Linked DNA regions of Homo sapiens: region 1 is linked to region 2. A link means that fine-mapping ties the variant in region 2 to the plasma level of a protein whose gene starts in the linked region. Region 2 holds a variant in brackets. A gene starts in the other region. All regions are shown on their forward strands.

Region 1 (5,387 bases), not on the chromosome of region 2:
TTCAGGGGTGCATGCGAAGGTTTGTTACATATGTAAATTCATGTCACGGGGGTTTGTTGTACAAAAGCCTTTTATAAATTAAATGATAATATGAATTATATTTTATAGGTAAAATTAGACATTGATTGCGCATGTAATACCTAACTCAGTTATTTTACATATGGAGTAAAGAGAGTAGGTATCACTTTATGGATGAAGAAATTGAATGCTAGAGATGGCCAAAATCATAAAGCTTATTTAATATAATGTTACCAACTGTGAATAAGTTATAAATTTATAAACACCTTTAGGATAAAAAGTGCTTTAACATACATGTCAGTTGATTTGAATATTACACAAATCTAAGATAAATATGGAATGTTTCATGCCTGTATTTGATAGAAAAAGAAACTAAACTAAACTACACAGAGGTTGCAAATTGACCCTTCAAATCTAGAGAGCGGTAAAAGTTTGAGTAAAATTCAAGTCTGACTCCACATCTATTTCACTATTTCAAGCTGTCCCAAGTTGTGAGCGACTTTACCATAATATAGTTAATAAAATAAAGGGAAAAAAGTTTTTAAGTTTTGGAAGACTTGATTTAAAATACAATATGAACATAACATGAAATCAACATAAATAGAACATGAAAAGAATCAGAGTAAATTGCTTGCCTATGCCTTATATGCTTGTATGAAATTCTTGGTATCTTAAAATTGTATAAAAACAAAACTACACACTTATGTGGTAAAAACATACCCCAGCTGTGTCGAGACCTCCGACCACGAATCCACCCCATCAAATACTTATAAGTGCACGTCTACCGCAGAGAGGAATCTAAAGTCTTCAATGCACAAAGGATTCCTGAATAAAATAAAACTGGGCATTTGTTTTTTGTTCTCTTTCCCGTGGTGAGATAAAATATTTTGAATAGAAAAGTAAAATGCAGAAACTTTTCCCCTGTGCATGCCTTTAAGAAAAGAATAGAAATGACAATTCACATAAAGCCAGGCAAAATTAATTTTATACATTTCTCTTGGTTGTAAAATAATCGCCAATTACTTCAAAATGTCATAACAATATAATGAACCTATTAATTCACCTACATTGAGATATTTAATACCAATATTTTACTTTACTGATATTAGATAACAACACACCCAGTTTTCTGTTTATAGTCGTTTATTGCTTCTTGGCCTTTTAGCTAAGATCAAGTGTTTCCAGTTGTTTATTTTATCTGGCAATAATTTAGTTTTCTTTCTGCAAGCTAAACTCAGGTAAGTTATATGCACTTTTGTTGAATGTCCTTTTCTAGTGCATTTTAATCCAACGTGCCCATATCATCATCATCAACAAATTATCATCACCATCATCATTAACAAAACTAATCTCACATGTTTATATAGTAACATCTTAGCAATGCACAGCAGAGCTTCCAGAAAAAACCATTTAATAAATAAGCATAGTGCTTAGATTTCAAAAATAAAAGCTATTTCATATTTGATTATGATAGTTGGAAAGCACAGATATAACTTGTTTCACCTTGCATGTAAAGATGTGTATCAAAGGTAAGTGCCCCCTACAGCATCAGAAAACTCAAAAATTTGACAATTTAAATTGAATCTCAATTCTTCTCATCCTAAATGTAAAGATTCATTTTTCTAGTTTTGCTTAGAGACAAGGCTTCTTCTTATAGTAATATTACAACTTCTGATTCTTCAATAAGTATATCCTAATTACCTATCATCAGATACAGTGATAGAATATACATCAGAAATGATAAGCATTCCGTATCCTCAGGAGTTCTATTCAAGCATCTAAGAAACAATTAGAATTACCTTATAGTGTAAATATTTTTATTTTTTTGAGGTTGAAATATAATTTCTCATATCTTGAATAATAAACACACACACATACACACATACACACACCTGCTCAGAGAGGGAAGATCTTGATTCTTGTGGATAAAAGCCTTCTATAAAACTAGAAAATTTAGATATGTCCTCAGTTCCTGATCTAGAATTGAAAGTGGAGATACTTAGTGAATTTCTATCTTTGAGAAAGATGTGACAAATATTATAATCTCATCTTCCTGTGGAAAAACATAAACCACAGTACTTCCGCCTTATCACTACAAAAATATTGTTAATTTGGTAAAAGAGTTAAGACCACCCATTGTTGGATAAATGTTAGGTTGGTGCAAAAGTAATTGTAGTTTTGCCATTATTTTAAATAACATTTTAGGATTTGAAAATGATGAATTTAAATGATGCCATTTAATCCTAAATATTTTAGAGATTCAATTCAATTCCAGTTAATACCTCAGGTTTTGTTGTAGAACTTACAAAGCAGAATTCTACATGTACATTAAATTACAAAAGTCAAGACTAGGAAAGTCACAATTGAAGATGAAGAAAATGTGGGAGCCTTGTTTTACTAGATAGTAAGACCTATGTTAAAACCGTATTAATAAAGGCAAAGTGGCATGTGGGGCATAGATAGACAAATTGAGAAGGGTAAAAATACAGACAAGAAAAAGTCATGTGCATAGATTAAAAAATATAAGGTAACATTGCAGATAAAGTGGGAAATTAGCTCCTATTCAATAATTTGTCCTGGGTTACTATCACACTGGCCTTTAAGTTACAAAAAATTAGTCCTGGGAATTTTTAAATTTTAATATAAAAAACATGAAATTGCATCTCTGTCATATCTACATCATATGCAGGAGAATTAGAAACTTAAATATATACCCCAGTATACATAAGAATAATATATGAATTGATACCAATGAACAAGATAAGCTAAATATATATTTTATGTTTATTAATTTAAAATACTAACATAAGACATCATATAAAGTAATATAAGATGAACACATTATAACATTTTAACAAAAACCAAAGCTATTAATCTTAAAACTCTGAAATATAAGGAAGGAAAACAGCTTTCATGTGGTGATGTGTTAAAGTTGGACAATAAATTTATTCAACATTTTTTTTCTTTAGCGAATGCTATTTGCTATGCACTTTTCTAGATCTTGAGAATGTCAAAGTAAACAATCCAAAAGAAAGTTTTTGCCCACATGGAAATTAATTACTTTTTTTTTTTTTTTTTTTAAGAGATGGAGTTTCACTCTTGTTGTCCAGGCTGGAGTGCAACGGGGCGATCTCGGCTCACTGCAACCTCCGCCACCTGGGTTCAAGCAATTCTCCTGTCTCAGCCTCCAGAATAACTGGGATTACAGGCATGTGCCACCACACCTGGCTAATTTTTGTATTTCTAGTAGAGACGAGGTTTCACCATGTTAGTCAGGCTGGTCTCGAACTCCTGACCTCAGGTGATCCTCCTGCCTCAGCCTCCCAATGTGCTGAGATTACAGACGTGAGCCACCACACCCAGCTGGAAATTACTTTTTAGTTTAGGTGATATAAAATGAATAAGTATAAAACAAATTCAAAATTAAACAAGATAGGTGAATATAAAACAAGTTGAAGAAAATATGTTATTTTCTGACATACCAAGATTCTTTTCAGCTAATCAACATTTTCTATTAGCTATTTTATATAGTAAAAATAGATCTATATAGAGGAAATATAGGCTGATATTTTCTAACAACTACATTTTAACAAATATTTGGTTTTTGAAAGGAAATGAATAAATGAGTAAATGCAGGCTTTTTATGGGAAAAACCTGAATCACAATTTCCTGAAGAGTTATTTTTATATATGTAGTTTTCGATTGAATAGAGATTGTCTCTTAAATACAGAATTGAGAAAAGGGGGATAGGAATAGGATAAAAAAGAACATTTGAATATCCTACCTATTTCGTTTAGTTCAAATGGCAACTTACAGCCAACTGGGAAGTCCCCACACATACCTAAAAGAAGATTTCTGAAATAAATACCATGATAAAGCTAAGCACCAGGGAGAGTTTTATTGTCATATATAAAGGTCCCTAAACCAACTGACAGAGTGTGGAAAGGATTCTTAAAGAAGAAAATTCTAAAATGGGTCCTGTATGTCGGGTTAAAACAATTAGTTAGATAAAGAAATAGTATGTTAAAACTCCAATTTCTTTCTCAATGTTGAACATACACTCACTTTGCTGTAGTCATGATAGTAAACTTATTGGGGATTTGCTGGGCATTTGTACTGGTTTATTCTATGTGAATTGCAAAAGGACATAGCATAGTTTTCAGATAAAATACTTTCTAATAAGTGAAATAAAACCAACGCAATTAACTTCTGCAGAAAGAATAATTTGACTATAAAAGTACCTGAACAAACTTCATATAGACGTATCTATATAACTTTCAAAAACTATTGTTAGAAGAAAAATTACAATATTTTGCAAACAGCCTGGGCTCAAGTCATTTGAGAACATCCATCACCACAATAAACTATTTAATTACTTTCATTAGTTGAGAAGAGCCAACAATCAACCGGCCTTTTTGGTCAGTAAGCTAACTCGCACTGTGGCCTCAGAAAACCCTTCTCTTCTGGTACACAGGAAAGACTTAACACGCAGCCAACTTGTGGTTAGAAACAGAGTGCTTGGCAGGTTGCTGGCTTCAAGCTGTGACACTAAAGCTGGATGTGGTCAGAGGCGTTTACTGGACGCTTGCCCAAATATGAAAGCTTAAGATGTGCAGCTATTGCCAAGCAAAAATTTTGTAATCTTGACCTTTTGGTAAATGTGTTTGAATTGACAAAAGACATGTCAAAAAGGACAAATTTTTAAAATTCACATGGACAATAAAGAAAATAAAAAGGAGTGGAAGAAATAGAGCTGAGTCTTTGGATATGCAGGGGCATCTATGGCCACACCACCATGATGCATCCAGTCTCGTCTGGACACGCATGGGCATATTGAAGCAGAAGTGAAATGATGACTAATGTAAAAGTAAAAAAGTCTGCAAACATATTTTAAGAAATATGTATATATATATTTTCAGAACCTATTTTCCATTCAGCTAGGTATTAAGTACTGGGCTACACATACTGACATATAATGTTAACTGGTGTATTGTAATTATATGAACTCAAGGCAGAGATTCCATAAATCTGGAATTTATACTTTGGGGAAAAACAGGTCATCATCTTGGCAATTAATTAATTTTCTCTGGCACAGCTTCCTAAGCCAGGAATGATTAAATGATTTTTTTGCCCCATCTCAGTTGAAATTTTGTATAATTCTAAAATTTAGCAATTCAATTGAAATATCTTTAGCAAATATTTGTGTTATATTAACTTAATCCATGCTAGGACACACCATTGTTTTGATTGTTTAATTGCAATCTATATGGTATAACGGAACAGAAAAGTGTTTTTCCCACTCTGGTATTATCTTTATAATTGTGCATAAATAGCCATACATAAATAGTAACTTTAAACAATTGCTCTCA
Region 2 (5,387 bases):
AAATCAAAGAATCAGGCTCAGTGGCCTGGTGGCTGGAGGATGATAGTCCCACAGAAATGGGAAAAAGTTGGAAAGGGCTGGCTTGGTATGGAAGTTGACTGGTTTGGATTGGATGTACAGAGTTCAAGGTAACTTGAAGTGGGTGCTATGTCTATGATAACGAAAAGTATCATAGTGGAGTCCAGTGCACAGGCAGTGAGAAGTATGAACACAGGGTCACCACAGAGAGGAGAGAGCTGTCAGTGAGAATCCAGTAGCTCTCTAAGGAAGCAAGTGTTTCAATTTCCCTGACCTGCACTAAGTAAGATTCTAAGTTACAGCATAAACCTTTACCAAATAAAATAGCCACCTTAAAAAGGTGATCTAAAGAAAACCTAGCACCTGAATTTGTAGATTATTCTTTAGCCATCCTCAGACAGTAGTCAGAGATCAATATGTTATCACACCAAATCAGATCACAGCAAAAGTCCAAAACTGAGGACGGAGTTGAGGGAGAGAGGTCTTGCCTCCAGGGTCTTTCCCAGGCAGGTGTATTCTGAATGAGTGACAGCAAAAGCATTCGTGTAAACTTAACACAGCTTGGGCCCTTATCTCAATGTACAAGTTTCTGCTGAGCCACTTTTATAGGCAAAGTTAATTTTTAAAAAAGATTAAATTGATGATTCTATGTAATTAACACTGGTTTCTGCCAATTGAAGACTGGGTGGGTATATGCATTGGAGAGCATGTGGAAGGCAACATTGATCTCTCTATGGATCCCAAGTATGTCTTGACTGGATAGAGCAAAATTTAAACTTGGAAGAAATAATCAGCACCAGATACAACTGATAGCAGTCAAGATGGCATGGAGTAATTTAGTCAGAGATGAAAGCAGTCTAAGGAATTCTATTTTAGAGTAACATTGAAAACTACAAACAACCTACCCAGACAATATTTTCTTGATGAAAATTCATCATTGCTGATATAGTTCTCTTTAAAATATCTGTATTTGTAGACATGACATCCAGGCATGCTTGAGGTCAAATCATTGGAATCAGACTGTCCCTCAGCCTTGAGGCTGAGTTTAGCTCTGCCCACCTTTGTGGGATCTGCGGGAGTTGGGATGGGACCAGAGGGCAATCAATGTCTTTATTGGCTGGATGGGTGGGCTTGGGATGTTCAGTTGGAGGACTGAGTTTTGCTCTACTCAAAGACAAGAGGCAGAACTCTTCCCAGCAGAGAGCAATGAAAGGTCATAGAGGGTAAAGAGTGAACGCAGCTTTGAGTATAGCAATCAAAGGCTAAACTAGTTGGGTTAACTTAGTAAAAGCCTTAATGCGTGTCAAATAAGTGGTTTTAAATCTGAGGGTGGCAGAGAATTGTGGGAGCATTTTCAAGCATGAAACAATGTAGTCAACACAGCCTACAGGAGGGCAGTCTGTGACTTACACCAAAATAAAAATTGGTCACCACATAAGTGAGCCTTTGATGAGAACCTGGCCATAAATATGAGAAGGGGAATGTAATTTTGTAAATTTTCTAGATTAATATTCCTAGAGCTTTCATGGCCAATTTCAATGGATTACTAAAACTTTTTTTTTTTCTCGTAAATCTTCTTGGGTTTCTCTTCCCTATTCTCCTTGAGAAGGTTGGTTGGAGAAAGACGACTTTATATATTTGGGGGAGTTTGTGGGGTTTGAGTCAACACTTGGGGCCATACACCAAGAGAAGAGTTAAAGCCATGGAAATCATGATGGAAGATTGAGATTTTTTAAATTAGCACTGTCAAATTTACAAAGGCAGGTGGAGTCTTCTCAATGAAGGTCCCAGGAAATGGAGATAGAGTGTCATCTCTGGGGACAAGATGACCCAAAAGGAAGCTGAACCCAGGACCTCCTGGCAGTTTAGGGAGGAGCTTTGCTGATGGGAATGGCCTTGTACTCTACTGTAATGACTCTGTCTGATGGGGTGGAGAAGTCACTGTACGGGGGCCCCTGACCCATGCAGGGGACAGTTGGGGAGCTCTGCCATGTCACCAAGGAAGGACGGACAGCATGCTGTTTACGTCTGTTATAACCACAGTGTCCTCCTTCACATCAGAAGGGCTCTGAGGCGGAAGTGAAGTCATTCACAATTTCCATTTCTTCCCTTCCAGTTACCTTAGAGCAGTTCTCCCTAGCAGTGAAGAGCTGTCCTGACCAAGAGGACCAGACTTTGTTAATGAAGGTAGGTTATCAGATAAAGAACTTATTTCCTAAAGGCTCAGAGCGTTTTTATTGCCCTGAGGAGAGTTTCATTTTTACAAGCGGGAGTAAATTTATCATGTCTGAATCGTGTGCTCCAGGGGGATAAGCTTGTCATAGGCGAATTGGAGGGTTGCTGGTTAACGAGCACCACTGCTGCCTGCGGAGTGCGGGAAAGTGACAGGAGAGTGGGTGTCCACATGAGTGGGGAATCTGTTTAACTCTCCAGAGGGCTCAGTTGGTTCTATTTAAACTTATCTGATGGAGTCTTGATGCTTTTTTAGCAGATTTATGAGGCTTGGCCAAATTCCACATCTCCCACTATATTTTTAATTAAGACAAAGGATTCCATACGTTCCCAGTCTGCTGCTTCCTACTTTTGGCACCTTAAGGAATGCTACACAAATTAGACTGTTCATATTCACCACCAGAATGAGCATCTTATGTCATAGATTCCTTGCCCTTGAGTGGAAGACAAGCTTCTTCCCCCCAACCCCCCGCCCCAAGGAACAGTTGTTTTATTTCCTTCCAAGTGACAGGAGCAGAGGCATTTCCAAATGGTATAACCTGCACTTAGGCTGCCTACCTAGGTGAGCCAAAAGTGTGGAAAACCCTGGCAAGCTGCCCACCTGGATTTAATTAAAACTTTGTCTTTGAAGCAGAGAGCAGTAAACAGCAGCAGATCACAAAGGTGCACACACATACTTTCCCACCACTAAGACTCATGCTTTCACACAGAAACCTTGCAGACTGACCTTGAGGTACAAATATTTCCATGATGTCACTTCAGTGCT[G/A]TACCACCAGGAAACCGCGTGCACCAGGAATTGCATTTCTTTATCTAAAAACCAGCTTCTTTACCAGGTGTCCTCTGACTTTAGAAATGGGTGGAAAAAAAATAGGGTGTCACTCTGAGGGATTTTCAACTCATTTGCCTAAGATGTGATATTTTTGGTCTTTAAAAAAAAAAAAGCTTTCAGTGATGTTAGTTTTATAATAAAGAAGCGCTGCTCATACCAAGTGTTGGGTTTGTCTGGGAACCCTGATTTTTCAGAGTCCTGGGCGTCTGATACACTGACTTAGAATGATATAGATTCAGGCACATGGGCGTTTCTTGTTTGCCACGCTTAATTCTCTGTTTCCTGCTTTAAGTTCTATTCTGCAAGGACCTTTCCTTCCAGGTGCAGGCTGGCTTTCCATGACCTTGAAGCAGCTCTTGGGCCCTGGATGCTCACCTCTTTTCTCTGCTCACCGGCCTTTGGTCTTTCTTCCCTCTATCCTGTGTTTTCTCCTACCATTTGCTTCTTGCTTCTCTCTTGTTCTTCTCCTACTGTCCATCTCTCCCCATTTGCAGGAGGTGAAGCTCCTGGGCTCCCCTGGAGGTTACATGGGCATCTCAGAGGCATTTTGGGGTACAGAGGGCAGCGACAGAGCCCAGCCCCAGAGACCACACCTCCAGGCCTGCTTCTAGTGGTCCTCATGGCCTCCCCGACTTGGGATGCCGCAGCCCCCTCTGAGTTTCTTCACATCTAGAGTGAGAGGTGAAAAGAGATGTAACCAAAGGCCCCTCCTCCTCTCACCATTTCACCTTCTTGCTGACTTTCATGGTGCTCTGGCTGGCTTCTCTAGCACATTCGGTTAGAAACTAACAGATTGGGGTTGGGAGAGGAAGGCTAAGATGGCCTGAGGTTTCCTGGAATTTGCGTGACCTCCAGTGGCGTTCAGTATTTTGTGTCTTACCTGTTGGTTTCTGCAGACTGTGTGGCCTCAGCAACAGAGGATGATTTATGTGGGCGTTTTCTCAATATTTGCAAATATTTGAACAGGCATCATCAAAGAAAGAAGTTTCACTGAACAAAAACGTGTGCCGAGTTCATATATACTGAAACTATTTTATGATTTTTTTTAGGAGATTGAGGTTTTCTAATGTCACATATCAGAAGGCACCATGTGGGTGTGACAATGGTATGCTGGGTTTTTGTAGATGTTATGTGAGAAAACCTATTCAGGGTGACAGTAGATTATTTTGACTACAGTCAGCCTGCAGGTGATTGTATGTTTGCTCTAGTGAGCTATCCACTTTGCAGACTGTCTGAAATAAATTCCCACATTTAACTTAACCTCATGAAAACTTGTTGGAGGCAAAAAACGTAGATCTGGGCCAAATATGATATATATTTTTTTGAGACAGAGTCTTCTTCTGTCACCCAGGCTGGAGTGCAGTGGCGTGATCTTAGCTCACTGCAACTTCCACCTCCTGGGTTCAAGGAATTCTCCTGTCTCAGCCTCCCCACTAGTTGGGAGTACAGGTGTCTGCCACCATGCCTGGCTAATTTTTTGTATTTTTAGTAGAGATGGGGTTTCACCATATTGGTCAGGCTGGTCTTGAACTCCTGACCTCAGGTGATCCACCCGCCTCGGCCTCCCAAAGTGCTGGGATTACAGACATACGCCACTGCGCCCAGCTGATATTTTTTAAAATTATATTTTGCATGCATTCCTGCATTGTCAAACATTCCAATGTTGCATTCTACATTGTCAAGGGTAATTGAGATCTGAGCACAAATATTTAAAGGGGTACCATTAAAAATGCAGCTTGTATGGCAGGCATGGTCCATGATTGTCCCAGGCAGCCTAATTTTGACTCAAGTCAAAAGCCCCTCCCTCAATCACATAGCTCCACCTTGCCTAACCTGAGAAGATGCTCTATAGACAGACTGCCAAGAAGATGCAAGAGATGAACTTGGTTCATCAGATGGCTGAACCAAGGTCAGATTCCCCTGCAAAGACAAAAACATTGAGATTTTGAAGATGGCATAAGCCAGAACATTCATCTGACAACCAGGAAAAGCAGGAGGGACAGGAAAACAAGTGACTAGCCACCATTGCATAGCTAGTCAGCCGGCAATAGAACTAGGACCAGAAAGCTGGGCTTCTTCCTGCGGGGCCCACTCAGATGAGCAAATTCATAGAAAATTCCACCACTCCACCCCTTCAGCACCATGAGAGCACACACGGGAGGTGTGACTGCAGTGGAACCATGAGGGGTACTGTGGTGGCAGGCTTCTGGAGTCACTCTCAAGGCTTGTTAATCACATCCTTGTTGCTGGGGGTCCTGTAAGACAGGAGAAAGCCAGCTTCTCTGTGACTCAGTTTCCCATCTACCAA

Which allele goes with the higher level. Positions count from the first base shown, and alleles are read on the strand shown. Strength reflects both the effect of a copy and how common the allele is.
As copies of A replace G in region 2, the plasma level of the protein whose gene starts at base 2,009 in region 1 goes down (moderate association).

What was found. PIP is the chance, under the fine-mapping model, that this variant and not a neighbour inherited with it causes the effect. The UK Biobank Pharma Proteomics Project read protein levels with antibody pairs (Olink). The fine-mapping took linkage between variants from a reference panel, not from the people measured, so its PIPs are less certain.
Region 1: KLRK1 starts here. The variant in region 2 is fine-mapped to the plasma level of the KLRK1 protein (UK Biobank, PIP 0.97).

What each region holds. Positions count from the first base shown.
Region 1 is chr12:10,388,033-10,393,419 of GRCh38, forward strand. KLRK1 (killer cell lectin like receptor K1) reads right to left here and starts at 2,009. Exons shown (of 8, transcript NM_007360.4): 1 at 1,911-2,009; 2 at 739-843. The coding sequence starts at 778. It overlaps KLRC4-KLRK1 (KLRC4-KLRK1 readthrough), which reads right to left. Exons shown (of 13, transcript NM_001199805.1): 6 at 3,803-3,859; 7 at 739-843. The coding sequence starts at 778. The region is part of intron 3 of KLRK1-AS1 (KLRK1 antisense RNA 1); the gene reads left to right.
Region 2 is chr2:111,047,084-111,052,470 of GRCh38, forward strand. ACOXL (acyl-CoA oxidase like) reads left to right here. Exons shown (of 18, transcript NM_001142807.4): 16 at 2,135-2,205. It overlaps LOC124907866 (a long non-coding RNA gene), which reads right to left and starts at 3,094. Exons shown (of 2, transcript XR_007087182.1): 1 at 2,978-3,094. RefSeq lists an enhancer at 2,769-3,063 and a silencer at 2,769-3,063. The variant G/A (reference allele first, on the strand shown) is at 3,017.